Regions from separate parts of the Homo sapiens genome. Here regions 2, 3 and 4 are each linked to region 1. The links come from fine-mapping of genetic effects on gene expression. A gene starts in region 1. Each other region holds a variant in brackets. All regions are shown on one strand. Distances are from middle to middle. Region 1 holds the start of PRKCQ (protein kinase C theta). Region 2 has its middle 6.8 kb from the start of LINC02648. Region 3 overlaps PRKCQ (protein kinase C theta). Region 4 overlaps LINC02648 (long intergenic non-protein coding RNA 2648).

What was found. PIP is the estimated chance that this variant, and not a neighbour inherited with it, causes the effect. A credible set is the group of variants that fine-mapping cannot tell apart.
Region 2: its variant is the best candidate, but not a certain one, in a credible set for the expression of PRKCQ in whole blood (TOPMed, PIP 0.55).
Region 3: its variant is the best candidate, but not a certain one, in a credible set for the expression of PRKCQ in whole blood (INTERVAL, PIP 0.71).
Region 4: its variant is the best candidate, but not a certain one, in a credible set for the expression of PRKCQ in iPS cells (iPSCORE, PIP 0.69).

The regions. Positions count from the first base shown.
Region 1 is chr10:6,575,762-6,583,869 of GRCh38, forward strand. It overlaps PRKCQ (protein kinase C theta), which reads right to left and starts at 4,515. Exons shown (of 18, transcript NM_006257.5): 1 at 4,450-4,515. PRKCQ-AS1 (PRKCQ antisense RNA 1) reads left to right here and starts at 4,664. Exons shown (of 2, transcript NR_036503.1): 1 at 4,664-5,166; 2 at 7,915-8,108. RefSeq lists silencers at 4,517-4,766, 4,777-4,926 and an enhancer at 7,726-8,020.
Region 2 is chr10:6,607,870-6,615,977 of GRCh38, forward strand. No RefSeq gene overlaps it. Among named protein-coding and RNA genes, the nearest start is that of LINC02648, 6.8 kb to the right of the region's middle. The variant G/A (reference allele first, on the strand shown) is at 3,282.
Region 3 is chr10:6,550,840-6,558,947 of GRCh38, forward strand. All of the region lies in intron 1 of PRKCQ (protein kinase C theta), which reads right to left. Among named protein-coding and RNA genes, the nearest start is that of PRKCQ, 25 kb to the right of the region's middle. The variant T/TA (reference allele first, on the strand shown) is at 3,135.
Region 4 is chr10:6,626,164-6,634,271 of GRCh38, forward strand. LINC02648 (long intergenic non-protein coding RNA 2648) reads left to right here. Exons shown (of 6, transcript NR_120634.1): 5 at 767-2,214. Among named protein-coding and RNA genes, the nearest start is that of LINC02648, 12 kb to the left of the region's middle. RefSeq lists an enhancer at 3,586-4,157. The variant T/C (reference allele first, on the strand shown) is at 4,863.

The DNA of each region.
Region 1 (8,108 bases):
CCAGGTGCGGTGGCTCACGCCTGTAATCTCAGCACTTTGGGAGGCCAAGGTGGGTGGATCATGAGGTCAAGAGATCGAGACCATCTTGGCCAACATGGTGAAACCCCATCTCTACTAAAAATACAAAAGTTAGCTGGGTGTGGCAGCGCGTGCCTATAGTCCCAGCTACTCAGGAGGCTGAGGCAGGAGAATTGCTTGAACCTGGGAGGTAGAGGTTGCAGTGAGCTGAGATCATGCCACTGCACTCCAGCCTGGCGACACAGCGAGACTCCATCTCAAAAAACACAAAACAAAAGACAGCGTTGCTGAGAATGTGGAATAATTGGGACCCTTTCTACCACTGGTGGGAATGTAAAACGGTCCAGCCACTGTGGAAAACAATATGGCAGTTCCTCAAAAAATTAAACATAGAATTACCCTACGACCCCACAATTCTACTGCTGGGTACATACCCCAAAGAATTGAAAGCAGGACCTCAAACAGATATCTGCGTGTTCCTCTTCACGGCAGCATTATTCACAATAATCAAAAGATAGAAGCAACCATCAACAGATACAAGGATAAGCAAAATGTGGTATATCCATAAATGGAATAGTATTCAGACTTAAAAAGGAAGGAAGTCCTGTCCAATGCTGTCACATGGATACAGCTTGAGAACACTATGCTAAGTGAAATAAGACAGTTACAAAAGGATGGATACTGTATTCTGCTTCTGTGAGGTCCCTAGAGCAGTCAGAATCTTAGAGACAGGAAGTAGAAGGGTGGCTGCCAGGGGCTGAGAGGAAAGACGGATGAGGAACGAATGTTCCACGAGGACAGAGTTTCAGTTTTAGGAGATGAGAAGAATCCTGTGGATGGATGATGGCAATGGTTGCAAAACAATGTGAATATACTTAATGTCACTGAACTGTACGCTAGAAAATAGTTAAGAAGTTAAATTTTAAGTTATGTGTATTTTAACCACAATAAAAAAGTTAACTGGTAGGTCACCTGGGACTGCGGTTTAAAGCAAATGCTTGATGGTTAGACTAATCTGGATGGTCCAACTAACCTGACTCTACCACTGACTGGTTATAAGACCTGGACAAGGGGCTCTACCCCTTGAGCCTCAGTTTCCTCATCTGAAAAACTGGAATAATAATAATATCTAATTTATAAAGGCTTTTGGAGGTTAAATGAAGCAGTAATGCCTCTTACATATAAATAAAATTCTGAGTATGATATACAGCACATAAATTCTAAATAATAAAGACTCAAAACCATATTTCATTGGTTTTGTTGATGCTGATTATTATTATTATAATTAATACTATTAGCTTAATTCAAAAGCTAACATCAACCTACAGCAACCTGCAGAAAGATGTCCTGCCAAATACTTGCTAATTTAATCCAGGAGCAAAAATCTATGATTCTGGGCTTGAGTGAGCTTTCCTAATTTTAAAACTCTGATGCTCATTTTGTCCCCAAGAATGTGTTTAGATGACAGAGCAATCAGAATTTGACATGTATAAATGCTTGGCATGTTAAAATAATGAAAGATATTTTCACCATTGTAAGGAAACAGCTTTTAATCCATCTCTCTGGTTCAACATCACATTTTTCTATAGTTTCTCATGACTTCTTCCTTAACAATTGGAATAGGTATGAAAAAGCTGAGCTGAACACATAGCTGCTTAGAAATGAGCTGCTTAAAGTGTTAAAACAACAGAAACAGCAAGCATGAGTTTAATGCTATGTATGCCGTCACAATACTAATTTCTCTATTTTAAATTACAGATTACACACACACATACACACACACACGGAATCACGTCTATATTGCTGGGATTTTCATTATATAACAATATATCATTTTAAATGATTTGAGGCAAATTATTGAAAAAAATTAAAGACTGAACTCCATAAAAAGGAAATCACCTGAAATCAAATATAACCTTGTTAACAAACCAGCACATTAGCAACATTTTTAGGGGCAACAACATAATCAGCAACTCTAAGACATCAATCAAATGCATTAAAAACAGGAAGTACTAACTCTAATTCCTAATTTCCAGAAAGGCAAATATACCATAATTAAATAACACGTTATAAGGAGATTTGTCTGTGTAGGTCTACTTCTGAATCCCCGAAGTTACATACTTGTACCACAAGCCCATACTCTTGAAAGAAAATTCTGGACCCAGTCCACATGGAATTTTGGTTAAAACATCTAATTCATTGCAGAGAAGAATTTAGTCTTTTCCACGGAAGAGACAGCATGTGTTAGAATGAGAATACTTTATAGAAATGACCAGTGACAAGCCGGCTATGTAAGGGGGCTTCTGATGCCTGGCGTTAACAAGAGACAGAGAGTATTATTGTTGAAAGGGATCTTTGAGATTACAGAAGGAGCTGAGGTGTGAATAATCGAACACCATCCCCTTGTTGCCTGAAGGAGAAGTGAGACAGCAAAACAAATCAAATTTCCAGGAGCTGCACCGTGTATGGTGAGCGAAGACGCAATGAGGACATGTCTGTAGGAGAACAGAGGTAGAAGTTAGCTCCTCAAGTAACAGTTGCCATCCCGAGGCACCACAGCACAAGACAGTAGCGGAAATGAACATGACAACGCGGATGGTGGGTGACAAGAGTCTTGCCTGGATATTGACATTTTTAAAGTGTAGAAGAAAATCGCAGGTCACTGAAACAAAGGCTGATGGTGCCCAGCAGGTTACTCTTGAAATCAGAAACAGAAGTTCATGAGAGGCAAGAAGACAGAAACAACAACTGAAAAACTTAGAGTGGATCGCTAACTTGCAGGAGCTGTGCAGCTTTGGCTTTGCAGGTTTTAGAAGCTCTCCCTACGCCACGTCTTTAAATATATGTATGTTCAATCAGCAGGAGGAAGGGACTAACAAGAGCCTTCTGCGGTAAGCACCTGCATCAAACAATGGCACTGATCTCAGAGGGATTTTAAACAGCTGTGCATAAACTTCAAAAGTAATTTGCAACCATATTAGTAAATGTCACTCTTCTTCCCGCTAGACACAGCACTTTTAAAAGAGATTAAGCATCCGCAGTAAGCCTGCCATTTTACAAGGGTTACCAAAGATAAGTTAGGGAAAATATGAAGATGATGATTCACAAGGTCGGGGTGTGGGGTGGGGTGGGGGACCCAGGACCTTAGGAATAGGGCTTGTCTATCACACAGCCTCGGGCAAGAAGGGCCCAGTGGGGACCATGGCTTCTAGGGAGCAAACCAAGGGAAAAGAGCAACGGAGTGGACCCTCCAGGCTTCTTGCCTCTCTCACGGAGCCTCACGAATCCCAGTGGTTTAGAATTTTCTTTGGCAAAAGAAAAGGTCAAAGAGGCCGGAGTTGACAGAAAGCATGGGCGGACTTCTCAGATCTTGTAGGTGGTTCTTAAAAGAATTCAGCAGGCTTGAGGTGTGCTCTCAAAGGGCAACTGGAACGTCAAGGACTTGGACACCAGGCACAGATGGTTCATTTCCCATGGACAGGAAGAGGGCACGGAGTGCTCCCTCTTCCCTCCACCTTCTCCAGCCTAGTCCCCCTCAGCCTGTGCCACTCCTGAATCATCTTTTATAGCACCACGTCCAGCCCGCACAGGGGCAGGACAGCCCAGGGAACAAGGCAGTCCTGTGGCGCTCTCCTTGCAGAAATGACCGGAGTCTCCCAATCCAGCCAGCCCGTGGACCTCTCTTCATGCCCACGGGGGAGTGCACACGCCTGTAGCATTCAACAGTCACTCTCCCATTGATAACGGTGGCTCTCGAAAATCCAATACCACAAAGATACTTTATTGCACAAACTTTGCTTGGTTAACCTGGCCCTCAAAGCTGGGGAATAACCTCACTTGAGGCTACAGGAATGAGCACGCAGATTTTTCTTTTTTTTTTTTTTTTGGTATCTTTCAAAGACCTGCCTCCCCCTCCCCCAGGCCCTTGACCAGAAACTTGGCTTGTTTAGAAGCCTGAGCAATGGCACCCCCGTCCGTGCTCCAATACATTCCCAGAAAAGGGGTTATGCTCCCCTGTGGACAGGATACCATCTCCAGAAAACATGTTTCCTCACGCATTTTTTTTTTTTTTTTTTACCAAGAATACAAAAACTTTCCACCTTCTTCCCTCCCCGCAGGCCCCCTTTCGTTCAGGTGAGAAGGAAAAGGGAGAAGAAAGGAGGAAGCGCCCCCAGGCCGGCGGCCCCCACCCGGCTAAGGTCGCCAGCATCCCGCATCCCGTGCGACCTGCGTCCCAGAAACCCAGCGGGGAAATTCTTCCCGGTGCGCTCTTGCGCCCGCTTGGTTCCATTTCCTACTCCGCCTGCTCACCCGGCAGCCCTCACCCCTTCCCGGAGGCTCTCCGAGGGGCCCGGGTAGCCCTTCTCGCCACGGGTCTCGGCCCCTCCAGCCCGCTCCCTCCCGGCGGCGGCGCGGGGCGCGGGGCCCTACCTGGAGCGAGCACGGCGCCGCTGCTGCCCGGTGGCGCTGGGACTGCGCGGGGACTGCGCGGGGACTGCGCGGGGACTGGCGGGGCTGGCGGGGCTGGCGGGGCTGGCGGGGCTGGCGGGCCCGGCGCACTGCGGGTGCGCCTAGAAGGCGGTGCCCGCCAGGGGGCGCTCGCCAGCCTCCCCGCCAGCCCGGCCTCCCGGGACCCGGCACCTCTAGCCAGGGACGCGCGCTCGGTCCCCCGCCGTGCGCCCCCGGTCCCGCGCCCAGGCTCCCGCCCCTGGCCTCCTTACCAGCCACTTGTCGCCCAGCTGCGAACTGGAGCGGGAGGCGGCGGCCGGAGGGCCCAGGACAGCCCCGGGAGGGCGGCGAGGCGGAGCAGGAGCGCCCCGGCTCCGGCCACATTCTCAGAGTCAGGAAAAGGGGCGAGAGGCCACATGTCTCCCTCTCGCCCAACTGAAAACGAAACGGCGCTCCAGCAGATTGGGTGGAAAGAGCTGGGTCTCTTTTCTCTGTTTTTCACGCTAGAAAGGGCTTGTAAACATTGTTCCTTTTAAAATGACCTACCCCAGGCATTTGTTTGGGCACACTTCTGTCCTGGGGTCATCGTTCCTAGGTGGCTTCGGACCTGGGACTTTTCCTGTATCTGCACATTGTCGTTTTATACACAATTGCCAAGGTGGGACTGCTTTCAACTTTACTGTGCTTGAAGCTGCAAAGGTAATGTTGCCGCCGTGCGTGTCATTTTAGGACTTTTTATGCCTTGCGGGTAATACTAATGATGGTCACAGGGAGGATAAACGGGGTGGTTTCTTTTTCTATACTCCATGTAACTAATTTCTCATTCAGGTTAGAAAATTATATGTCTGGTTACTAATATTCTTACTGAATGGTTTCCTTGCAATGATGACACCAAATAATTAAAACGTACTTGATTAAGACTTTTGTTGCTGTAGTGTACTAAGATCAGATTAATCTGAGAAGTAAAATAGTAATTTTTTGTCCTTTTTTCTTTTCTTGTTTTGAGAGAGACATTAAAAACGATTAAAACAAAACAAAACAGGCCAGGTGCGGTGGCTCATGCCTGTAATGCCAGCACTTTGGGAGGCTGAGGCGGGTGGATCGCTTGAGGCTGGGAGTTTGAGACCAGCCTGGCCAACATGGCAAAATCGTGTCTCTCCTAAAAATACAAAAATTAGCTGGGTGTTGTGGCACGTGCCAGTAATCCCAGCTACTCAGAAGGCTGAGGCAGGAGAATCGTTTGAACCTGGGAGGAGGAGGTTGCAGTGAGCTGAGATCTCACCACTGCACTGCAGTCTGGGTGACAGCAAAACTCTGCCTCAAAAAAAAAAAAGGTTTAACAAAAGCCAAAAGTTGAATTAGCAGCCTTCTGATCATGGGAATGTAGGATGTCAACTAAAAAGAACCTCAGAGGTTGGGAAGGCAGATGAAAAACTGAGGCCCCGAAGTGTTTCAAGACTTGATTAAATCACTCAGGTCTGCACTAGGAAGCGAGTTATGATGATGCCCCTAATCTATATGAACCCAAATAAAGCCAAAACACACACACCTTTTAAGGATAAAACTATATTCCATTAAAATTAGCCCCGCATTTGTCAATATCTAACAGCATTGGACTGACCCTCAGGCCAGAGGCTGTAGCTCTTGGAAGATCCTAGCCAGGAGGTTTGAGAGTGGCCAGTACCTCGGAAGTGCTGGCTCACTCTGACATCATCAGAACCTGGCATACAGTAGGCGCTCATTGGGTATTTGCTATGGAAATTAGGCAGGAAAGTGCGTCTGTGTCTGGAAACAAAGAGGCAAAGCTTAAGCAGTGATCCCCATGCAGATTCTTTCTGCAAACTACAAAACAGAAGCTTCCCTAGTTCAGACTGCCATCCATCTGGCTCTTTCTCCAATTGTTTTTCAGCGGATCCTGTTACAGTGCAAAGAAGAAATGGCAAACGGATAACAGCTACTGTGCCTAGAAGATGGTAGATTCCTCACGCTCCATATCTGGGTTTCTCATTGACAATTAGGCACTGAAAGGAAGCTCATATGTCCTGTTAATTTAATCAGTAGTTAGTGGCTTTAGAAAAAGTTTCATATATACACCAGGTATGATAAGGACTTTTTTTTTTCTTTTTGAGACAGAGTCTTGCTGTGTTGCCCAGGATGGAGTGCAGCGGCGTGATCATAGCTCACTGCAGTTTTGATCCCCCAGGACTCAAGTTATCCTCTCACCTCAGCCTCCCAAATAGCTGGGACTACAGGCACACATCACCATGACCAAGCTAATATTTAAAAAGATTTTTTTGTAGAGACGGGGTCTCACTATGTTGCCCAGGCTGGTTTAAAACTCCTGGGCTCAAGTGATGCTCCTACCTCAGCTTCCCAAAATGCTGGGATTATCGGGGTGAGCCACCATGCCCAGCCTGTGATGACTTTAGACGCACTACTCATATAATATTCATAATCTGATGTGATATGTATCATCATCATTATCATCTCTCTTTAACAGAAGAGACTAACAAGGCTTAGAAAGGTTATGTACCTCGCTCAAGATCCCACAATTACTAAAGTACCAGAACCAAGATTCAAACCCAGGTCAGGCTGGAGCCACCATCTCAAGAGCTGCTGAATAATTAATTCTCCTTTTTTTTTTTTTTTTTTGAGATGGAGTCTTGTTCTGTCACCCAGGCTGGAGTGCAGTGGCACAATCTTGGCTCACTGCAACCTCTGCCTTCTGGATTCAAGTGATTCTTCCTGCCTCAGCCTCCTGAGTAGCTGGGATTACAGGCATGTGCCTGCCACCATGCTCAGTTAATTTTTGTATTGTTAGTAGAGACGGGTTTCACCATGTTGGCCAGGGTGGTCTCGAACTCCTGACATCAGGTGATCCGCCCACCTCAGCCTCCGAAAGTGCTGGGATTACAGGCATAAGCCACTGCGCCCAGCCAATTCTCCATTCTTACATCGTACACTCAGTTTTCTCTTTCTTTCTCTTTTGGACAACTGATCTTTGAGGACTCTTGGCTACTCAATTGTCCTATAATCGTATAGTCCTACAACAGGAAACCCGTTAACCTGAAGATCAGATCTTTTAAAACAACATCCATCATATATCTACAAAATTGGGATTTTTTTATCGTAAAATTTCATCTAAAACAAAAAATTCACATCTGTTCTTGGTATCCATTAGGTGTAGTGGACACCTCTAGATATTCTTGATGCCAGCATCCTGTAGACCCGCCATCTCCTTTCCCAGGCCATGGGGTGTTTCTGTTTTCTATTAGACACTGTCTCTTAGTTATATAAACGTGGCTGCTCTCAGAAGTTCTCCACACCTTTGTTTCCTGGAAGAGGAAATGGCATTTCCTGGAGGGGATGACACGTGGGCGGTGAGGTTCCACTCACTACGTTAAACACACCCTAACTTTCAGCTGTGTACTTCTTTTCCTCTTTCAGGTTCTGCCCTGATGTTTCCTGGAATAATGCTGAGGACTGCCTTTCGGGTAGCCGCCCTATTCAGTTCACTTCATCTCGGAAATACCTGACCCCTGCCTTGGATCCAGCGGCCCTCCTGAGAGCTGAGGAAGGAGGAAATCCTATGTGTCTGCTCCCGGAGCTGCCACAACCCATCTTCCCACAACTCGGAACTT
Region 2 (8,108 bases), 32 kb after region 1:
GGCCATTTTCGGTGTTGGGAGCAGTAGGGGTAGGGAGAGGGGTGGAAAATCTTGGCCTTGGCCCAGCTATGTCTAGATAAACTGGAAATTTGCCCTGACAGCTCTTTTCCTCTATTGTGCAAGGCAGGGCCAAGTGATGTCATTGGGACATGCAGATGTCTCTGTCCTCTTCTTTGACTAGTGCCAAGAAAAATGATCTTTGCAATGAACTGATGCTCCTTCCCCCAACTCAGATTCAGCTGTCTTATCATTTCTAAACCTGTGGCCACAGGCTAGATCCCTGGAAACTCAAGAAATGCTTTCCTTGAGGGAAATCATGCCCTGCTGCTTTCTGCTTTAAAACAGAGTGCTGGCTTATCTCCAGGATAGTGGAAAAGCTGTTGGCATCTCAGTTATGTTACAAGGGGCACACACAAAAAGCAAATTAATTGCTTCCTTCCTACCTTCTTTTATTCATTTATGTATTCATTCATTTAAGGAAAGAATATTGATTGAACATCTACTCAAGAACTGCAAAACAGAGATTACCTGACCTAAAGGTAAGTATTGGCAACAGAGGAGACAAACTTGGGAGCAGGCAGCTATAGCACAACACGGTGCAGCCATACCTAGGAGAGGGAGACGGGAGTCCCAGGAAGGATCACCTAACACAGCCTGGAGAAGAGCTGAGAGGGGAAAGCCTTAGAAAAAGGGCCACATGAGATAAGTCTTTAACAGTAAGTGGGAGTTAACCAGATGGAAAATGGGCAGCAGCAATTTTGGACAGAGCAGCAGGTGGAAAGTCAAGGGGCCATGAGAAAGCAGGATGCTTGTGGGAACTGCTGGAGACGGATGGTGGTGAGTGGATGGGATTCTAATCAGGACCATGTTTGTCCTCAATTTCTCCAGGGTGGCATGCACACAACAGCAAAAATGCCTATGTATTCCACGCTGGGCACTGTACTAGGAGTTTCACACATATGATCACATTTCATCTTCATTTTACAACCAAGGAAGTGGTCTAGGCTAGACTTGACCCTGAGTTGCCATCTCCTTGTATTTGCCCTTGACACTGTTACTACATGGAATTATAAGATCCACTCTGCTTACCACACATCTGTTGTGATGGTCAAATGATGCAAAGTATGTGAAAGCACTCACAGAACTACAAAATGCTTCATGTATAAAGTCTTGTTTCAACAATACAGGTCTTTTAGTGGAAAACTAGAATTAATAATGCTGTACTGATAATTTCCACTGTATTTCTAGTTGGTGTGAGGTCAGGGATCTGAGGTAGCAGAGAAAGGAGGGAGGCAATTTACACTCGGGGAATATATTTTTAAATGTCCCCTTGCACAAAAGTCATTTAGTTATGTGCAAGATCATCTTTAGCAGATTTATTAATTTGTGATCTTTATTTTGGGAAATTCAAATTATAGTGAATTCCCACCCATGCTTATTATGTAGCAGAAATCGTGCATGTCATCAAGGGCAGGGGAGGGAATCTCAGGGACTGGGAAGGGTGATTGGACATAGTACCTTCTAAACTCATATTAATAAAATAAAGTTATCAAATGAAGCCCAGGGTTGGGAAGGACTTATATGTGGAAATTCTTTTAGCATAATATGGCTCAGAACTTAGACTATGAGTAAGACTAGCTACACCATTTGCAGAGTCTAGTCCAAAATAAACATGCAGGATCTCTTAATCAGAAATCGATGAATTTCATGATGGCAACAGCAGAACCTCATGTCAAGTGTGTTGCCCTTCTGGGCACAGGGCTCTTTGTGACTACATGGGTTGCATGCCCATGATGCTGGCCCCTACTATAAGTTAGGAATCTTCCATGTTATCTGGTGAAAGGTATTGGCTGAGACTTATCCTTGCAGTGAAAAATGACTTGTTTGAGGACACTTGGGAACAGCTAGTGAAAAACATGAACACAGAAAAGAGGAAATTCTAAGTCAATTTGAAAGACACTGTTTCCTTATTCCTCTCTTCCACTTTCAAGTCCCAAACATCCCCTTTCTTCTACTGAATACACATGTTACCTGCCTGTTGTTGATCTATTCAAATGACACATGACTTTTATTGGAATTTCTTCCTGTTGGTAAAACTAGACCACTGCTACTGCAACAGAAGCTCATCCTTTTTGCTGAGTTTTCAGGGGAAATCAAACAGCTGTGTATCCTGTGCTTGGCCTTCAAAGTATTCATAATCTGAACTACTTTTACCTATTTTCCAGTTCTTCCAAATACCCATTTTCTGTTTTTATTTTCCAGATGACTATGATCCTGTTTCTTGAAATGTTTCTTTTTTTAACTAAAAAAGTTTTTAAATGCATCTCAGGTCTGGGTGCACCATGGTTACAATTAGGCCAAGAAAAATATTCTCTCCACTAGGTTTTTTAAATGTTCACCTCCACTTCTTGACTTAACACTTGCCCAAAACAAAACGGATCTCTTTTGCAGATGAATATGGTACCCCTGACAACACAGTGGGTTGGTTCAGTAGCATCCATTCAACATATATTTATTCAGCATTACGAAATATCAGGTGCTATGATGGATGTTATATATAAAGTGATAAACAAGGTAAATATTGGGCTCATATTCTATTGATGGAGACAGACATAAAAAATTGTCACATGAATAAACATACAATGAATATATAAATACAATGATGGAAAAGAAAAATTGTTATACGCAAGAGTCAGTTGCTTCTTTAATTGCATGGTTAAGGATGCCCGCTCTGTGGAAGAGATAGTTTAACTGAGACTTGAAGATGAGAAGGAGCCAGTCAGGCAAAGAACTGGTATGGATATGGGGTAGAGAGTGGTCCAGGTGAAATGTGATAATCCTAAGGCCAGAAATCATTTTGGGGATTTGGGGATCTGAAAGAATGTTAAAATGGTCAACATACTGTGAGTTAGGGATTGAGGCTAGAGAGGCAGGTAGGGTCCAGAGCATTCAGGCAGAAACAACAGGAAGTGTGGGTGCTGAGTAATCAAAAGGATGGACTGAGCTGGTTACTAAGTTACTGCTTCTCAGCTTCAAAGCTGTCCTTCCACACCCATTTCTTCTGGATGCTGAGATGGAGACTCTATATCACAAAATTTCTGCATTATCAGCTGCCAACCTGCTAAGCTCTGCTGAAGGAAGACACTAAGGGACACTGAAAGGCTAGAGGCATCATAGGAAGAGACCTGCTCTTTCCTTTTTGCTTCCAGTTCCTGTTGGCAAGGTTCTAGCAAAGATGATACTAATACACCTTGGCAGTGACAGTAGATTTCAGTTTGCAC[G/A]TTTCCTAATATTGCTAGGTTCAGCTTCACTCCCATTCCAAACCCATCCTGAGACAGGAGCAACGGCTGGCTGGAGAGTCCTCCTTAGAGGTCTAAGTCCTGCTTTATGGAATATTTCCTCCAGGTGTCTCATAATCCCAAGCTCTTAATAACTCCAACCTTATCTCTGTGTTCCCCCAGACCTAAGGCAGATAGTTTTTCACCGCATTTAATAGTTTTGTGATATCTTAATGTTTTCTTTTTGTCTTTTTGCATTCTCTAACATCTGGTTGAAATTATTTATATTAAATTCATTTTGTTAAAATAACTAGTGAGATTTCTGTCTTTTGACTAGATCCCAATTGATACAGATGATGTTAGGAAATGGAGACAAGTGATTTTCAAGTTTCTAGCTAAGTTGGGTGGATGAAATGCCATTTTCATGGGAAGACTTGAATAAGAATATTTTGCTATCTTAGATAAGCAAAAGTTTAGTTTTGGACATGTAAGGTATGAAATGCCTTAAATGAGACATTTAAATGGAGATGCAGCAGAAGCAGTCAGATAGACAAATTTAGAGCTCAGGGATATGGCTGCAACAAGTAGGTGAAACTACACAGGAGATGGAAAGATTGGAAAAAACCCAGAAAAGTTTTGTGGTCTGGAAGCCACGAGAAGAATGTTTCAAGAAGAGGATGTGTGGTGCTGCATAAAAATAGACATATAAATCAATAGAAGAGAATTGAGAACACAGAAATAACCCCTCACATTTATGGTCAATTGATTTTTAGCAAGGTTGCCGAAACAATCAACAGAATAGAATTTTTTTTAACAAATGGTGCATGAACAACTGGATATCTACATGCAAAAGAAAACAGCTGGACCCTTCCTCACATAATATGCAATTATTAACTCAAAATGGACCAAACACCTAAATGTGAGAGTTAAAACTGTAAAAATCTTAGAAGAAAACATAGGGGTAAATCTTTGAGACTCTGGATTAGGCAATGTTTTATTAAATACAATGCCAAATGCACAAACAACAAAAGGAAAAAAAATGGAACTTCAAAAATGAAAACATGTGCTTCAAAAGATATCATCAAGAAAGTGGAAAAACAACCAAGAGACTTGAAGAATATATTTGCAAATCATATATCTGATAAAGGACTTGTGTCTAGAATATATAAATAACACAACTCACTAATTAAAAAAAAAACACCAAGTCAACCATTTAAAAAAATGGGCAAAAGATCTAAATACACATTTTCCAACGTAGATATAAAAATAACCTGTACATACATGAAAGGATGTTCAACCTCATTAGTCATCAGAAAAATGCCAGTGAAAACCACAACCACTTCACACCCACTAGGATGGCTGTAATTTTTTTTAAAAAAAACAGATATAATAAGTGTTGATGAGAATGCAGAGAAATTAGAACTTTTATTCATTGCTGATGGGAATGTAAGAATGGTTTAGTCACTTTGAAAAACAGTCTGGCAGTTCCTCAAAAGGTTAAACACAGAGTTAACATATGACCCAGCACTTCTACTCATAGGCATATACCCAAAAGAAATGAAACATATGTCCACACAACGACTTGTACATGAATGACCACAGCAGCATTGTTCATAATAGCTAAAAGCTGGAAATAACCCAAATGCCCGCCATGTGATTAATAGATAAGCAAAATGTGGTAGATCTATACAGTGAAATATTATTTGGCAATAAAAAGGAATGGAATACTGATATATACTACAACATGGCTGAACTTTGCAAACATACTCTGTGAAAGAAGCCAGTCATAAAAGATCACATGATATATAATTCAATTTATATGAAATATCCAGAATAGATAAATCTCTAGAGACAGAAAGTGGATTACTGGTTTCTTAGGGCTGGAAGGAGGGCTGGGGGGATTAGAGAGTGATGGGTAGTGGGTACAGGTTTCTTTCTGGGGTGATGAAATATTCCAAAACAGATTGTGTTAAAAACCACCACATTGTATACTTTAAATGAATTATTTGCATGGTATGTAAATTATATCTCAATAAAGTTGTTACAATGAATACATATTCTTGTAGCAAAAAATAAAAGATGAGATAGTGAAATGCACAAAATGCTACTAAAAGGTGGTGTAAAATCAGGATACAAATATCCAACATATTTGGTAACACGCAAGAGAGCGGTCACTTTGATAAGAGCTGGTAGAGCAGGCTTACCTGAAAAGCCTCTAAGAATTTCCAGGCCATGAAGAGTGTTTATTGGAGATTTATCAACATGAGTTCAAAATGAGACCAATCTGTGAACTAGAGCAGACCCCAAATATTGGTCTGGGTGAAAAAATCGACAAAAATAAGGACTTGGGCTTGCCTAATGTTGCTTTCACTAGGTTTTACCATGTACTTAGCAAGAAAGTAAAGGAGACATTTAAAATATGAACATTTTGTAATGGGGTAAGGGATCATTGTTCTCTGATCCCTTACCTGTTCCTGCTATAGATGAATCCAGGATTCGGTGGTGCCTGTTCCAGGAACCTTTAGTGTGAAGGATCCTCCAGGTGAGAGAAGCCTTTATGTCTTCTGAAATGGTTCTGCTGTGTCCCCACCCAAATCTTGTATTGAAGCTCCCATAATTCCCGCGTGCTGTGGGAGGGACCCAGTGGGAGATAATTGAATCATGGAGGCAGTTTCCCCCATACTGTTCTTGTGGTAGTGAATAAATCTCACCAGATCTGATGATTTTATAAGAGGTTTCCCCTTTCACTTGGCTCTCTCATTCTCTCTTGCCTGCCGCCATATAAGATGTGCCTTTTGCCTTCCACCATGATTGTGAGGCCTCCCCAGCCACACAGAACTGTGAGTCCATTAAACCTCTTTTTCTTTATACATCAGCCAGTCTTGGGTATGTCTTTATCAGCAGCATGAAAACAGACTAATCCACCTTCTTTGGGCTTGATGGGTGGGGATAGGGAGAGGTGGAGATAACCTGCCTCACTGAGACCTATCATCTGGGTTCTAAGTGCATAATTCCTTGCTGGCCCCAGATACTGAACCAAGTTCTCCTGTGTTTAATTTCTTGCCTTTCCTTCGTGTCTACTCGAAGTTTCATGGCATCAGACGAATCTCTGCCCCAGCGGGGTCATATGAATTTCTTCTGAAACACTCAAATGCATAGGGCAATGAGAGAGTGGAGCATCAGCAGGCTGACATCTGTTCTTTAAGAACTCTTTAGCAGAAATAGTCAGACATAAATGTGCATGCTCATTTAAGCTACGCTCTAGGACACAGTTTCTCTAATGGCATCTTGTGAGATGTCACTGGTGATTCTGCAAGGGAGTGTGAATGAAAAAGTAAACCCTAATTAAAAAAATTTTTTTTGCAGTAGGTTACTGGGGGTACAGGTGATGTTTGGTTACAGTTCTTTAGTGGTGATTTGTGAGATTTTGATGCACCCATCACCCGAGCAGTATACACTGCACCCTATTTGCAGTCTTTTATCCCTTGACCCCTCCCACCCTTTCCCCCAAGTCTCCAAAGTCCATTGTATCATCCTTATGCCTTTGTGTCCTCACAGCTTAGCTACCACATATCAGTGAGAACATACAATGTTTGCTTTTCCATTCCTGAGTTACTTCACTTAGAATAATAGTCTCCAATCTCATCTGGGTCACTGCAAATGCCGTTCATTCATTCCTTTTTATGGCTGAGAAGTATTCCATTGTATATTTCTACCACAGTTTCTTTATCCACTTGTTGATTAATAGGCATTTGGGTTGGTTCCACAATTTTGTGATTGTGAATTGTGCTGCTATAAATCTGCAAGTATCTTTCTCGTATAATGACTTTTCGTATGAATCTGCAAGTATCTTTTTCTTATAATGACTTCTTTTCCTCTGGGTAGATGCCCAGTAATGCGATTGCTGGATCAAATGGTAGTTCCATTTTAGTTCTTTAAGGAATCTCCACAGTGTTTTCTATAGTGGCCATACTAGTTTACATTCCCACCAGCAATTAGAAGTGTTCCCTGATCACTGCATCCACGCCAACATCTACTGTTTTTTGATTTTTTGATTATGGCCATTCTTGCAGGAGTAAGTTGGTATCACATTACGGATAAACCCCAGTTTTTGAACTTCACATACTGCACAATGCTGGTGATGTAGCAGCCCTGTTGGGATTTTGTTAGGGATCCTTAATCCTTGTTGTGTTGCTGTGAACAGGACTGTGTTTATTTGCAGGAGTCCATTCTCAATTTTCTGTGCAAATTGGGGAAGGCTGTTGATAATCGGTGGATGCTATAGTGCCCATGGAAAGACTCTAGTCTGAAGATACCAGTCTCTCCCTCCCAAGATCACCTCCCCTGACCAACCTTCTGCACTCCTGACAGATACAAGGGAGCAAGCAAGTTGCACCCAACCTAATAGTAAATTGCAGGGACATTTCCATTCTAAGGAAGGAATTTTTGTGTGTGTTGCAACTCAGCTTCTGCTCTGGCATTTTGCTGTGGTAAGCATTGCAAGGCAAGGTTTATATAGGTTAGAAGAGAATTTTATTGTGACATTTTCTTTTTTTTTTTTTTTTGCAATTTCTGTTCAAGTATTTATTATGCCCTCTGTGTTATCATTTATTAGCATTTATATTGCCAATCATGTTGGAGAGTCCATGTGGTGATTTCTGAAAACGAGATGTGAGAAAGAAGAGGATAATTTAAGTCTAGACCTACAGATTGTGCTGATAAAGTGATGAAGAACTACAATCTTCTTAGTCATTTCATTGTATAAGTGCAATAAAGGGTATGTAATAAATTTGTATGTTCATATTTACAACGGAAACTGCTTATCAATGA
Region 3 (8,108 bases), 25 kb before region 1:
GGCTCCAACTCTCCACGTCTTCACCAACACTTGTTATTTTTTGTTTTTTGATCTAGCCATCCTAATGGGTTCAAGGCAATATCTCCTTTGATTTGCACTTCTCTAATGGGATTATAATTTGTATTTGCTAATGGTAAGTAATGTTGAGCATCTTCTCTTTTTTTTAAATGTTTATTTTAGGTTCAGGGGTACGCCTGCAGGTTTGTTATACAGGTAAACTTGTGCCACGGGGGTTTGTTGTACAGATTATTTCATCACCCAGGTACTAAGCCTGGTACCTAATAGTTATTTTTTTCTGATCTTCTCTCTACTGTCACCCTCCACCCTCTGACAGGCCCCAGTGTGTGTTGTTCCCCTCTTTGAGTCCATGTGTTCTCATAATTTAGCTCCCACTTATAAGTGAGAACATGCCACATTTGGTTTTCTGTTTCTGTGTTAGTTTGCTAAGGATAATGGCCTCCAGCTCCATCCACGTTTCTGCAAAAGTCCTGGTCTCATGCATTTTTGTGTCTGCATAGTATTCCATGGTGCATATGTACCACATTTTCTTTTTTTTTTCTTTTTTTTTTTTTGAGATGGAGTCTCACTCTGTCACCCAGGCTGGAGTGCCTGGAGTGCACCATCTCAGCTCACTGCAAGCTCCGCCTCCTGGGTTCATGCCATTCTCCTGCCTCAGCCTCCTGAGTAGCTGGGACTACAGGTGCCTGCCACCACACCCGGCTAATATTTTGTATTTTTAGTAGAGACGGGGTTTCACCATGTTAACCAGGATGGTCTCGATCTCCTGACCTTGTGATCCGCCTGCCTCGGCCTCCCAAAGTGCTGGGATTACAGGTGTGAGCCACCACGCCCAGCCCACATTTTCTTTATCTATCTACCACTGATGGACATTTAGGTTGATTCCATGTCTTTGCTATTGCAAATAGTGCTGCAGTGAACACACACGTGCGTGTGTCTTTATGATAGAACGATTTCTATTCCTTCGGTTATGTACCCAGTAATGGGATTCCTGGGTCGAATGGTAGCTCTGTTTTTAGCTCTTTGAGGAATCACCATACTGCTTTCCACAATGGTTGAACTGGTTTACACTCCTACCAACAGTGTATAAGCATTCCATTTTCTCCACAACCTTGCCAGCATCTGTTATTCTTTGGCTTTTCAGTAATAGCCATTCGGACTGGTGTGAGACTGTATCTCATTGTGGTTTTGATTTGCATTTCTCTAATGATCACTGATAGTGAACTTTTTTTCATATGCTTGTTGGCTATCTGTATATCTTCTTTGAGGAAATGTCTACTCAAGTCTTTTGTTCATTTTCTAATTTTTTTTGTGGTTGTTGAGCTTATATAGCTATTTATAGTTTTTCAAGTGTATTATAAAGTGTTTCAGATATACACAAATATAAAAATAACTTTTTATACATGTTTTATATACCTGTATATTCCTAAAAACATGTATTCTGCATACAGCATGTTTTACTAGTTATAAAACACAATATAAATCACTGTTTATATTCTCCTGCAACTCCAGTGATCGTGCCTCCAAGATTCAGGCTCAGTGCGTGCAGTCTCCATTCATTCATTCTCACTGTCTGCAACAGCAGGGCTCAAACCTGTTAGTCTTTTTTTTTTTTTTTTGTCTTTCTAGACAGAGTCTTGCTCTGTTGCCCAGGCTGGAGTGCAGTGGTGTAATCACAGCTCACTGCGGCCTCCACCTCTTGGGTTCAAGTGATCCTCCCCTTCAGTGTCCCAACTAGTTACACTGCAGGCATGCACCACCACACCCAGCTAGTTTCTTTTTTATTTTTTGTAGACACAGGGTCTCACTAGGTTGCTCAGGCCAGTCTCAAACTCCTGACCTCAAGTGATCCTCCTGCCTTGGCCTCCCAAAGTGCTGGGATCACAGGTGTGAGTCGCTGCACCCAACCAAACTTTTTACTCTAAGAATTATTTTATTCTCTTAAAAATTGTGAGAAAAACAAAGAGCTTTGGTTTATAGGGATTATATCTGTCAATATTTACCACATCAGAAAATAAGAAGGAGAAAAATTAAAATTTTTTTTTAATTAAAAATAATGAAAACCTATCATGTAATACGTGAAGACAACATATTTTATGATAAATAATTATGTTTTTCAAAGCAAAAAACATTGAAAAAAAGTGGCACTGTTTGACACTTTTGTGATCTCTTTAATGTCTGGTTTAATAGAAGACAGTTTCTGCGTTTAGCCTGTGGCTATCAGAACATGCAGTCTCTGGAAAACTTCAAGGTACAGAATGAGAGTGAAAAGGAAAAATAGACCTCAGTAATACTGTGAAATCAGTTTTGACTTTGCAAACTCCCTGAAAAGGTTTTAATGATCTCCTGGACCACACTTTGAGAACCACTGCTGCAGATTCCATCGGAATAGACATACGAGGCAGGCAGATCGCTTGAGCTCAGGACTTTGAGACCAGCCTGGGCAACATAGCAAAATCCTGCCTCTACTAAAAATACAAAAATTAGCTGGGCATGGTAGTGTGTTCCTGTGGCCCCAGGTACTCAGGAGGCTGAGGTGGGAGGATCACCTGAGCCCTGGAGGTGGAGGTTGCAGAGAGCCGAGATAGTGCCACTGCACTCCAGCCTGGGTGACAGAGCAAGACCCTGTCTCAAAAAAAAAAAAAAAAAAAAAAAAAAAACAAACAAACAAAAGAAGAAGAAGAAGAAAGAAATATGCTATCCATCTTTTCTTCTATTGATGTTTCATCTTTTCCTTTTTTTCCTTCTTCTTCCTTCCTCCTCCTTCTCCTCCACTTTCTTATAACTCATGCTGCTGTGAACATCCTTGTAGATACCTCCTTGGGAACATATTTGAGAGTTTCGATAGAATACATGCAAAGCAATAGACCTACAAAGTTGCGGTATGCACATATCTTCAACTTTGGCAGTTACTTCCAAATTTCTTACCAAACTTTAAAATCTATAAATGTGTCACTAAATTATTTCTGAGCACCTAAAACTTTAGTCAAGGTTATCCCTGGGAGGCAGGACCTGAAATGTGACTATAATTTTATACATTAAAATATAATTGATAGTACAGAATTATATTTGGTATGGAGAAAGGTCTCTAGAACAAAAAAGTGCAGTGGAAACAG[T/TA]AAAAAAAAACAGAGTGTCGCAGACATCAAGTCTCGGAGCACTCATTCAAGTAGTAGTTCAAGTAGGGAAGAAAGACTAATTCACCTGTTTGCTGAATTCAGCTGTGTGACCTTAGGCAAGTTACTTTACCTCTCTGGGTCTAATGTTCTCATCTGTAAAGTGCTGCTATTTCGTGATTCTAGGAATTGAAACCCACGACCGTCAGGAAGATTATAGTCTCCTTGGGATACAGGACTCATATACAAAGCAACCAAGGCCAGTTGGTACCAAAGTCCATGCAACGTTGCAGAAGGAACTGCAACTCCGAAGAGAGAGAACTCTCCAGCAGTAGTTTCAGGAGAAAAATGGGGGTCCAAACTGGGAATTAAAGTGTGGTTGGAACTGAATTAGGGGAGATATGTTTGGGGAAGTGAGACAATATGAGAACAGTTTTCCTTTCTATTACTTTGATTTGGCAATATTTAGAGGGTGTTAGCTTAGTTTCAGGGCCTGGGGAAATGCTGTGGCCTCTGGCATTTTCTGTCTACAGCTGGAAATGTAAAAGGCATCTGTAAGCCACATCCACTACATCCACTGTAGAAAGAGGCACGGCTCACTCATCGCCACCTCAGGAACTCTGTCAACTCTTGTGGGGGCTTTACAGAAAATGAAAATGGAAATTGTGTTAGGAAAATGATCCCAATATCAGACATTTCTTTCAATAAGTCTTTTATTAGAATTTACTTTCATTGGGAAGATAATTCATTTCCATTAAAAATTACTAAGTCTACAAAGAATCTAAAACAGAACTACCATTTGAACCTGCAATTCCATCACTGGGTATATATCCAAAAGAAAATAAATCACCCTACCAAAAAGACACACGCATATCTATGTTCGTGGCAACACCATTAACAACAGCAAAGACATGGAGTCAACCTAGATGCTCATAAGGAAAATGTAGTACATAGACACCATGGAACACTATACAGCCACAAAAAAGAATGGAATCATGTCCTTTGCAGCAACATGATTGCAGCTAGAGGCTATGATCCTAAGTGGTGAATGCAGGAACAGATAATCAAATAATGCATATTCTCACTTAGAAGTGGGAGCTAAATATTGGGTACTCATGGACATAAAGATGGCAACGATAGATACTGGGGACAAGTAAAGGTGGGAGGGGGGGGGTCTAGGGTTGAAAAACTAACTATTGGGTACTATGCTCAGTTCCTGGGTGATGGGATCAATCGCACCCTAAACCTCAGTATCATGTAATATACTCCCTGTATCTAAAATAAAAGTTAAAAAAAAAAAAGATCTAATGCTATAGTGACACATGTAAACCTCCTCGAGAAGGATCTGTTCATGTCACCCATAATAGACATTAACACAGACTGGTTATTTGTATACATAACAGGAAAAACCACTTATCTTCCTAAATGATGCGTACACAAACTACTGTGGGAACTTCTATTTCAGACAACAGACATTCAGTGAATAATGCAATCCTCTGGAAGAGAACACTAAACAGAAACAGATTCACAATTCTGTGCTATCATTTGGATGGGGGAAAAAAGACATTCATTGTTGTGTATGCGTATGATAAAGAAAATATTTAATTCAAAGTAGGATTTAGAGAGGTTCAAAGCTTCAGCTGATTTGAATCACTTTAAGGGTAAAGCATTATATCAATTTCATAGCATTGTATTAATAATAAGGTTTTATAAATGGATACCACATGGTGGATTTAAAAAAAAACAGGGTATGGGCCAGGTGGGCACGGTAGCTCACATCTGTAATCCCAGAACTTTGGGAGGCAAAGGTGGGCAGATCACTTGAGATCAGGAGTTCAAGTCTAGCCTAACTAACATGGCAAAACCACGTCTCTACTAAAAAAACAAAAATTAGCTGGGGTGGTGGTGGATGCCTGTAATCTCAACTACTGGGGAAGCTGATGCAGGAGAATCGCTTGAAACCGGGAGGCAGAGGTTGCAGTGAGCTGAGATCGTGCCACTGCACTGAAGCCTGGGTAACAGAGCGAGACTCTGCCTCAAAAAACCAACAAACAACAACAACAACAAAACCAGGATATGGTTTAGGAATGACCTCTTCATTTACAGAGTGTTATACAGCAGAAGAATAACTTATTCCTTTTTCTTATCCCATGATTAATGCTTTAAAAGCAACAAATAGGTTAGCATGAGGGCTCATGCCTGTAATCCCAGCACTTTGGGAGGCTGAGATAGGAGGATCACTTGAGGCCAGGGGTTAGAGACCAGCCTGGGCAACATAGCAAAACTCACATCTCTACAAAAAATTTAAGAAACCAGCTGGGTGCAGTGGCATACGCTTGTAGTCCTAGCTACTCAAGAGGGTAAGGTGGGAGGAATGTTTGAGCCCAGGAGTTAGAGGCTACAGTGAGCTGTAATTGCACCACTGCACTCCAGCCTGAGCAACAAAGCAAGACCCTGTCTTGGGAAAAAAAAAAAAAAAAAAAAAGCAACACTTAATATGAGCTACCTGGAAGAGGCAAATTCATAGAGACAAAGAGTAGAAGGGGGTGGCCTGGGACTGAAAGGAGAGGGAAATGGAGAGTTACTGCTTACTGGGTACAGAGCTTCTGCTTGGGTCATGAAAACGTTCTGGAAACAGTCATGAATCTAATTAATGCCACTGCACTTTACACTTAAAGTGGTTAAAATTGTAAATTTTATGTTTATTTTCACTACAATAAAAAACAATGAATTATGTAAGCATTTGATTTATTGCTGAATTTGCCAACAATCTTGGCTTTATTTTTGATCTTATTCCTGGCCTGTTTATTTTCCAATTTCCTAAACGGGCTGTCCCACACTTGTTCCCCTTATGTCTCCAAAACCATGACTCTGCCTTCTCCACCTCGGCAGATGAGCTTGTTAATTTTAAGGAAAAACTGGAAGCCGCAAGACATAAATGGCTCAACTTCCTTCGCTCTGGTTCAACTTATCCCAGTCTCCATCTAGTTCTTCCCTGAATGCCTCATGCATACATGATCCTAACCCTGTACACACTCTTGGAATTGTTCTTTTCTTTAACCCCTTGCCATTCTTGTGATTTCTGCCTGTCTCCCACTCCCGCTTATAAACACCCTCCGGTTTTGCAACCTCTAACAACTTCTGCCGTGGCTTCTCCCGCTGCTATGGCCTTACCTCCCTTCCTTCACCAACCAGCTTCCTGAACCATCTTTGCTTCCTCCCCTTCCATTCGCTTCTCTGCCCTCTGCCATATGGATTCCTCCAGCCAGCACTCTGTGGATCTATCTTGCTCCCTGCAAGAGCGCTGATGACTTGGTCATTTCCAGACCCTGCGGCTGGAAATGGTCTTCCTCCTCAACCAGAGACCTTCTTCCTTTTGTTCCAGAGACCTTTCTCTATACCAAATGTAACTCTGTACTATCAATTGTATTTTAATTCAATTTCTTGGTCTTCCTCCTTGACACTGCACAGGACACTGTCGACTCCCTTCTTCTCTCCTGCTCTCCTTCCCTCTCAGCTCACTCTTCAGCTTATTCTGTTGGTTTCACTTCTTTACCTAACTATTTTGGAATACATTTTGACTTTCCTCCCCCTTTTTTTTAAACCAACATTTCTGGTCAATCTCATCTATTTTGATGGCTCCTATGACCCTCTACCTAGTAGTAGCCTCAAAAAGAATATCTTTCTTGAACTATACATTCACTTTCTTCGGTCCCCTGTATTCAACTCCATATTGGACCTTTCCAGGTGATGTTCCACCAGCCCCTCAAACACAACTGAAACAAACATGAATTCTACTTTTTCCAGTGTCTGTACCTCTCCTCTCTGTCCTGTCTTGATCAATGGAATTACCACTTACTGAGTCTTCCAAGCTAGAAATATTGGAACCAGCTGAGTTCTCCTTCATCTTCATCTCCTCCAACCATCTACGCAACAAGTCCCATGGATTTTTCTGGTTATTTTTGTTGCATTTCATCACTGCTCTTCAGTCTTTTAGCTCTGGAACTTCAGACATTTTCTCTTAATAATTTCATGATTCCAATAGATGTTTAATTACTTATCCCCTTGCTCTTTCACGCTGCCTTTTCCACCCCTACACGGGCCATGTGAGCTGTCTTTTAAAAAAATCTCTTCCTTGCTTTGAAACATGAAGCAGATTCTCTTTGTCTGAACTATAAAGTCCAGACTCATGACCCACACAACCTCTTTATTACAGATCAACTTCAAAATTTTAAGGGGATTCCATTATGGCTAAAGATATATATTAAACAAGGCATTTTAAAAAGATGTTTTGGTTTCTTAAAATGGATCCTTCTGAATAGCCTTGAAATTGTTCAAAAGAACTCTAAAGAAAACAATCTTCCCTTACACACTACTAAAGATGTAAACAGACATACAGTACTATTTTGTTTTTTTTAAAAAAGGCTTAGTAAACACAAAGAGGAGTTACATACTGAAACCCACAGCTGATTTAATTTGCAAAACCACAGCGTTAGCTTGACTAAAGTAAAGATGACACAGATAAAATGCAACCAGAAAACTGAGATAAAAGATACAGGATAAATAACTTAAGCTGATGGTTTAGCAAGCAAACATCATGGGTGTAACATGAAGATCTGAGAAGTGACTTCGGTCCAGGAAACTCACTCCACAGAGTCCCTAGGAGCAGCAGGTTTTTAGGAGAATCACAGCATGCTGGAATATCGTCATCTATTCTTGCACTTGTGAGGAGGTGGTCACCGTGATGCAGGAAGAGAAATAAGATTTTAAAGTTGAAGTTGAGGGGTCTAATTTCTTATTTTACTATTTTTATCTCTATGTTAGGAAGATTTGGGGAAAATTCTCAGAGACAGTCTTTATCCTTAGGGTGTAAGAGAAGGGGGCGACGAGAAACTTCATTCAGAGCTGAACTAGGGCTATTGATTCTCCGGTGAGACATTTAGAGAGTCCCAAGTGCATGGTCACGCGCAGAGAGGC
Region 4 (8,108 bases), 50 kb after region 1:
TCTTTCCTCATCCATTCTACGTCGCTAAAGCGCTCACTGAGTGCTGGGGTCGCACAGTAGAAATGGTTTCTGTCTTTAAGGGATCTACAATGAGTGTTAAAAGCAGATGGAAAATAGACAATGGGCAATTAATTAGTCAACAAATATGAACCAAGTGCCCCATGGGGCAGGTTCTGTTGTGGACACGGGAAATATGAAGGAAAGCACAGACAGAGACCCTCTGCCCTCACGGAGTCCTCATTCTAGCAGAAAGAGACAAGCAATAAACAAAGCAAAGAAGTATGTTATCCATTGCGTTTGAGGGTAATTATGGGGAAAAGAAAAAGCAGAGTTAGAGGAATGACACCCGTAAGAGGGAATGGCAAGGGTTGCAACATTAAACTGGGTGGCAGAGGGGGTATGCTATGATGAGTGTATACGGAACCATTATATGGAGGAAATACACAACCGCTCAGGCATAATTTTTTATCCATTTTTTTGATAACTTATAAACCAGGGAAAAATAAGATATGCACTGTTTTATTTACTATATACAAGAAATCAGGTTTAGGTATGTTGAATCAATGCAACTTTACAGAAATATTACGTACATTCTTTATGGAAACAAAATAATTTGAAGTATGTTTTCCCACTTATCAACATCCTGTAAAATTTGGAAACGGTGATCACTGCTTTTTATACTGCAGAAAAGGAGGAAGATATGTAATTGGTCTGTATTTGTTTATTTACTGTAACTTTAATTGATTGTTATATTTTTCTGCCACAGATGCTGGACCGTGACACGAATGTGGCCATTTCCACTGTCACCAAGCTCCCCTAGGTCTCCATCAGCTTCAGTGACCTGGGCTCTTTCACTTCTCAGAGATGCTCATCTGTGCATCTCCTGTCAGTTCTCGCTCTTTTTTTTGAGATGGAATCTCACTCTGTCGCCCAGGCTGGAATGAAGTGGCACGATCTTGGCTCACTGCAATCTTCACCTCCCAGGTTCAAGTGATTCTCCTGCCTCAGCCTTTCAAGTAGCTGGGATTACAGGCGTGCACCACCATGCCTGGCTACTTTTTGTAATTTTAGTAGAGATAAGGTTTCACCACGTTGGCCAGGCTGGTCTCGAACTCCTGATCTTAAGTGATCTGCCCGCCTTGGCTTCCCAAAGTGCTGGGATTACAGGCATAAGCCACTGTACCCGCCTCCTGTCAGTTCTCTTAAAATAGCCGAGTGATCTTTCCTTCCCATTCATCTGCTATCTGTCTGCTGGCTCTTTCTTGCCAATAAAGACTCATTTTCTCCTATCTAGACTTCTCTGGCATGAGGAATGAGCCAATTTAATGCATGTCTTAGGTGGGAGTGTGGTGAGTTGCGGAAAGGAGGTTTGGGGAGCTGGATTCTCTGTGAAAACGTGTAGCAAGGAGAAAGGTCACTGGGGAGATTATCATCTGCAAGGCATGAGAGGCTGTTCTATTGTCATTCACATGTCATCAGCCCAGTTATTAATACTTTCCTTCCTCTACCCCCTTGTCGTTGTTAAGGAGTTCCTTGGAAAAAACAAGTACTTTCCCTCCCCTGGTTGGTGTCTCTGTGTCTTCAAGATACTGCCTATTTTTTTGAGGTTTCAACACAAACAGATCTAGTCATGGCAAAATGGTGACATTAATTCTGACTTCCCAGCTTCAACACTCTTCCCCTAAGAGGCAGAGAATCCTAGCACAGTAAGGGGTCTTAATGTTCTGGTCAACCCTTCTTGCCCACACTAGTCATGGAAGTCTTTGTTGAAATGCCCCCAGTGAAAGGAGGTTCATTTCCACCCAAGGTAGCTCATTCAATTTTGCCACAACTGTGTGTGTGTGTGCGTGTGTGTAAATGTGTGGGTGCATGTGTGTATGTGTGTGTTGGTCCATGTGTGTGTGGCTTCCTCCACCCATTAATTGTAATTCTAGCAGTTGGGGCCATGAAGAAAAATGCAACAACTCTTCTGGGCAGGAGGCTTTTAGATGACTGAGTACTCTTTTGACATGTTTCTTTATTTCTTTACCATCGATCTCTTTCCTCCAGGATTAGCATAATCAGTTCTTGTTTTTTTTTTTTTGTTTTTTTTTTTTTATTTCTCTGAGAGGGACTCTTGGTCTATCAGCCAGGCTGGAGTGCCGTGGTGTGATCTGGGCTCACTGCAACCTCTGCCTCCCAGGATCAAGCGATTCTCCTGCCTCAGCCTCCCAAGTAAGTGGGATTACAGGCATGTGCCACCACGCCTGGTTAATTTTTGTATTTTTATTAGAGATGGGGTTTCACCATGTTGGCCAGGCTAATCTCAGACTCCTGATTTCAAGTGATCTGCCCACCTCAGCCTCCCAAAGTGCTGGGATTACAGGCGTGAGCCACCACACCTGGCCATTGCTTTTGTCTTCTTGCAGCTATCAGTGTGTACTCCAATGCTTCATAAATTTGAGTAAAATGCAGATTCCTTAAAATAAATCACAATATTATGCTCTCTCTCTCTCTTCCCCTCTCTTTCTATATATATATATATATATATATATATATATATATATATATATATATATATCTGATTACTGACTGAATTAGTTTTTATTATTTAAACCTAAGATTTAAAACCCTTCTGTTCATAGTCCTTAAACATGAAACTTAAAAATTAAGATTAAGTGTAGAATTAGCAATTTAACAGGACAGATTAAAATGTGTTTTACTGAAGCCAAATTATTTTCAATGTGAAGATACTACTACTATCATATAGCATGCATTTACATTGTTTATTGATTCCTTGTTATAACCCAATTCTCCTACCATTTGTTCTGTATATAAAATGAGGATACAAAATGTATTGTCTCCTCAAAGGGTTAGTGTGAGACTTGCACGAAATCATGCATATCAAGCACAATGCTTATTGCAGGATAATGGTCAAAAATGGCAGATATTATTACTATAATTGTTATTGCTGGTGCTACGTTATCATTGGTGCTTTGTCTGCTTGCAGATTCGAATGGAATACAATAAAACCTTGCTGACAAACATCTTTCAAGTTTAGGTCTAGTTTCCAGTCCCCATCATGACTTTTAAAATTTGCTCTGAAAATTCCTGGTCATGACTCTTTCTAAATTAAACAGACTTTCAAGTTGCATATTAAAACGTGGGTCACCTCAGGGCAAGCTAGAAAGCCAGGGAGGAGTTATAATGATGTATAAAGGACATTCCATGTTGCATCTTCCTCTACTTCTCTGAAAGAGCTCAAAATTAATGTTCAGAATCAAGAAAATACTACGGACCTGTCTTCAATATCGTGGCTGCCCCAAGATAGATAAAGTTTTGATTTTCTTTGTCTTTGAATGTAATACATGGTAGTTCCTTGAAGGTTAATGAACTGCTCACAGAGTTTTGGTATAATAAATCTTTACACAAACTTTCATGCGCGTCCGTGTGAAGAGACCACCAAACAGGCTTTGTGTGAGCAACATGGCTGTTTATTTCACCTGGGTGCAGGCAGGCTGAGTCCGAAAAGAGAGTCAGTGAAGGGAGATAGGGGTGGGGCCGTTTTATAGGATTTGGGTAGGTAAAGGAAAATTACAGTCAAAGGGGGTTTGTTCTCTGGCGGGCAGGAGTGGGGGTCGCAAGGTGTTCAGTGGGGGTGCTTTTTGAGCCAGGATGAGCCAGGAAAAGGACTTTCACAAGGTAATGTCATCACTTAAGGCAAGGACTGGCCATTTGCACTTCTTTTGCGGTGGAATGTCATCAGTTAAGGTGGGGCAGGGCATATTCACTTCTTTTGTGATTCTTCAGTTACTTCAGGCCATCTGGGCATATACGTGCAAGTCACAGGGGATGTGATGGCTTGGCTTGGGCTCAGAGGCCTGACATTCCTGCCTTCTGATATTAATAAGAAAAATAAAACAAAATAATGTTGAAGTGTTGGGGCAGCGAAAATTTTTGGGGGGTGGTATGGAGAGAGAATGGGCGATGTTTCTGAGGGCTGTTTCAAGCGGGATTAGGGGTGGCTTGGGAACCTAGAGTGGGAGAGATTAAGCTGAAGGGAGGTCTTGTGGTAAGGGGTGATATTGTGGGGATGTTAGAAGAAACATTTGTCATATAGAATGATTGGTGATGGCCTAGATACGGTTTTGGATGAATTGAGAAACTAAATGGAATAACAGAAGGAGAAAAACAGGTATAAAATGTCTAAGAATTGGGATGACTCAGGATATCTGATTAGAGAGTGCCTAAGGAGATTCAGCATAGTCCTGCCAGCAAAGATTATTTATTTACTTCAAGAGTTAAGAGTGGCAGTTTGGGGATAGCACCAGGAGATATCAGCTGTGATGGCTTGGAAAAACAGTGTAAACCAGCAGTGTAAACAAGAGCAGGGCATGTATGAGTAGTTGAGAACGGTGAATAGGAGTATGACTAGACAGAAGATAGTAGGGATGACAAGTTTTTTGGGGCACAGTCCAAGTTGGTCTGGTGTCTGGAATGAGACTGGGGCCTAATAAAAAGGAGCGTCTATACAAGAGCTTAAATGGGCTGTACCCTGTAGCATTCTAAGGACAGGCCTGAATTCTGAGAAGGGAAAGTGGTAAAAGTATTGTCCAGTCCTTTTTAAGTTGGTGGCTGAGCTTGGTGAGGTGTGTTTTTAATAGACCATTAGTCCTTTCTACTTTTCTTGAAGATGGAGGACCGTAAGGGATATAAAGGTTTCACTGAATACTAAGAGCCTGAAAAACTGCTTGGCTCATTTGACTAATGAAGGCTCATCTGTTATCAGACTGTATTGAGGTGGGAAGGCTAAACTGAGGAATTATGTCTGACAGAATGGAAGAAATGACTGCGGTGGCCTTCTCAGACCCTGTAGGAAAGGC[T/C]TGTACCTATCCAGTGAAAGTGTCTACCTAGACCAAGAGATATGTTAGTTTTCTGACTCAGGGCATGTGGAGTAAAGCTAATTTGCCAGTCCTGGGTGGGGCAATTCCTCGAGCTTGATGTGTGGGGAAGGGAGGAGGCCTGAATAATCCCTGAGGAGTAGTAGAATAGCAGATGGAACACTGAGAAGTTATTTCCTTGAGGATAGATTTCCACGATGGAAAAGAAATGAGAGGTTCTAAGAGGTGGGCTAGTGGCTTGTACTATAGCAAAACCTGCCTTTGCTGGTGTGTGGCGATTAGGCCTGGTGGAACCGCCATCAATAAATCAAGCATGATCAGGGTGAGGAATAGGAAAGAAGGAAATTTGGGGAAACGGGGTGAATGTCAGGTGGATCAGAGAGATAGTCATGGGGGTCAGGTGTGGTATCAGGAATAATGTGGGAGGCCGGATTGAAGTCTGGGCCAGGAACAATGGTAATTGTGGGAGGCTCAACAAAGTGTGAGTATAGCTGAAGGAGCCAGGAAGCAGAAAGTATATCCATCAGGTATGAGGAAGAAAATAGATTTTGGAAGTTAGGAGAACTGTAGAGAATGAGTTGAGCACAGTTTGTGATTTTGAGGGCCTCTAAAAGTACTAAAGCAGTGGCAGCCGCTGCATGCAGACATGAGGGCTAGGCTAAAACAGTAAGGTCAAGTTGTTTGGACAGAAAGCCTACAGGGTGTTGTCCTGGCTCTTGTGTAAGAATTCTGACCGCGCTAACCATGCCTAGGAAGGAAAGGAGTTGTCGTTTTGTAGAAGGTGCTTGGGTTTGAGAGATCAGTCGGACACGATTGGCAGGGAGAGCACGTGTGTTTTTATGAGAATTATGCAGAGATAGGTAACAGATGAGGAAGAAATTTGGGCTTGATTGAAGTAATGGGGGCTGTCTGTGAACCTTTGCAGCAGTACAGCCTAGGTAATTTGCTGAGCTTGATGGGTGTCAGGGTCAGTCCAAATGAAAGTGAAGAGAGGCTGGGATGAAGGGTGCAAAGGAATAGTAAAGAAAGCATGTTTGAGATCTAGAACAGAATAATGGGTTGTAGAGGCAGGTATTGAGGATAGGAGAGTATATGGGTTTGGCGCCATGGGGTGGATAGGCAAAACAATTTGGTTGATAAGGCGCAGATCCTGAACTAAATTGTAAGGCTTGTCTGGTTTTAGGACAGGTAAAATGGGGGAATTGTAAGGAGAGTTTATAGGTTTTAAAAGGCCATGCTTTAGCAGGCGAGTGATAACAGGCTTTAATCTTTTTAAAGCGTGCTGTGGGATGGGATATTGGCGTTGAGTGGGGTAAGGGTGATTAGGTTTTAATGAGATGGTAAGGGGTGCATGACCGGTCGCCAAGGAGGGAGTAGAGATATCTTATACTTGTGGGTTAAGGTGGGGGGATACAAGAGGAGGACACAAAGGAGGCTTTGGATTGGGAAGAAGGGCGGCAATGAGACATAGCTGTAGTCCAGGAATAGTCAGGGAAGCAGATAATTTAGTTAAAGTGTCTCAGCCTAATAAGGGAGCTGGGCAGGTGGGGATAACTAAAAAGGAGTGCTTAAAAGAGTATTGTCTAAGTTGGCACCAGAGTTGGGGAGTTTTAAGAGGTTTAGAAGCCTGGCCGTCAATATCCACAACAGTTATGGAGGCAAGGGAAACAGGCCCTTGAAAAGAAGGTAATGTGGCGTGGGTGGCCTCCGTATTGATTAAGAAGGGGACGGGCTTACCTTCCACTGTGAGAGTTACCGGAAGCTCGGCGTCCGTGATGGTCTAGGGGGCTTCCGAGGCGATCCGGCAGCGTCAGTCTTCAGCCGCTAAGCCGAGAAGATCTGCGAAGGAGTCAGAGAGCCTTGGGCCAGAGTTCCAGGGCCTCTGGGAGTGGCTGCCAGGTGAGTTGAACAGTCCAATTTTCAGTGGGGTCCCACACAGATGGGACACAGGTTAGGAGGAATCCCGGGCTGCGGGCATTCCTTGGCCCAGTGGCCAGATTTCCGGCACATGTAGCAAGCTCCTGTGGGAGGAGGTTCTGGAGGAACGCCTGGCCGCTGTGGTTCAGGCGTTTGGAAGTTCTTGGGTGCTGGAGATGTGGCTGGGGTTTGTCTCACAGTGGAGGCAAGGAATTGCAACTTTTTTCTATTATTGTACACCTTGAAGGCGAGGTTCATTAAATCCTGTTGTGGGGTTTGAGGGCTGGAATTTAATTTTTGGAGTTTTATTTAGTGTCGGGAGCAGATTGGGTAATAAAATGTATATTGAGAATAAGACGGCCTTTTGACCTTTTAGGGTCTAGGGCTGTAAAGTGTCTCAGGGTTGCTGCCAAAGGAGTCATGAACTGGGCTGGGTTTTTATATTTGATGAAAAAGATCCTAAACGCTTCTGATTTGGGATAAAGAAAAAGGAGCATTAACCTTGACTATGCCTTTAGCTCCAGCCACCGTTTTAAGAGTAAATTGCTGGGCAGGAGGGGGAGGGCTAGTCACTGAACGAAACTGTAAGCCGGACCAGGTGTGAGGAGGGGAGGTGATGAAAGGATTACAGGGTGGAGGAGCAGAGGCTGAGGAAGAATTGGGACCTAGCTCGGCCTGGCAAGGAGCAGCCTGGGGAGGAAGGGAGAGGTCAGATGGGTCTGTAGAAAAGGAAGATTAGAAAGACTCAGTGACGCTTGGGGTTGGTACTGAGGGGACAGGCGGGAGGGAAAGAAGGAAGATTTGGGACGAGTTGCAATGGGCACAGACTAGGAAGGGACTGATGTGTAAAAGAATACCTGGACATCAGGCACCTCAGACCATTTGCCTATTTTACAACAAGAATTATTTAGATCTTGCAGGATGGAAAAATTCAAAGTGCCATTTTCTGGCTATTTGGAACTACTGTCGAGTTTGTATTGGGGTCAAGAGACATTGCAGAAGAAAATAAGGCATTTAGGTTTTAGGTCAGGTGTGAGTTGAGGTTTTAAGTTTTTGAGAACACAGGCCAAGGGAGTAGAAGGAGGAATGGAGGGTGGAAGTTTCCCATAGTGAAGGAAGCAAGCCTAGAGAAAAGAGAGAGTAGAGAAATGGAAGGAAGGGGTTCAGGGGTTCTTACCTTCCAGAAAAGTGGGAAAAGGGGTTGGGGCTCAGAGATAAGAGGTCAGGGCACGGAAATAAGGGATGGGGCGCAGAAATAAGAGGTCGGGGCGTGGAAATAAGGGATTGGGGTGCAGAGATATGAGGTTGGGG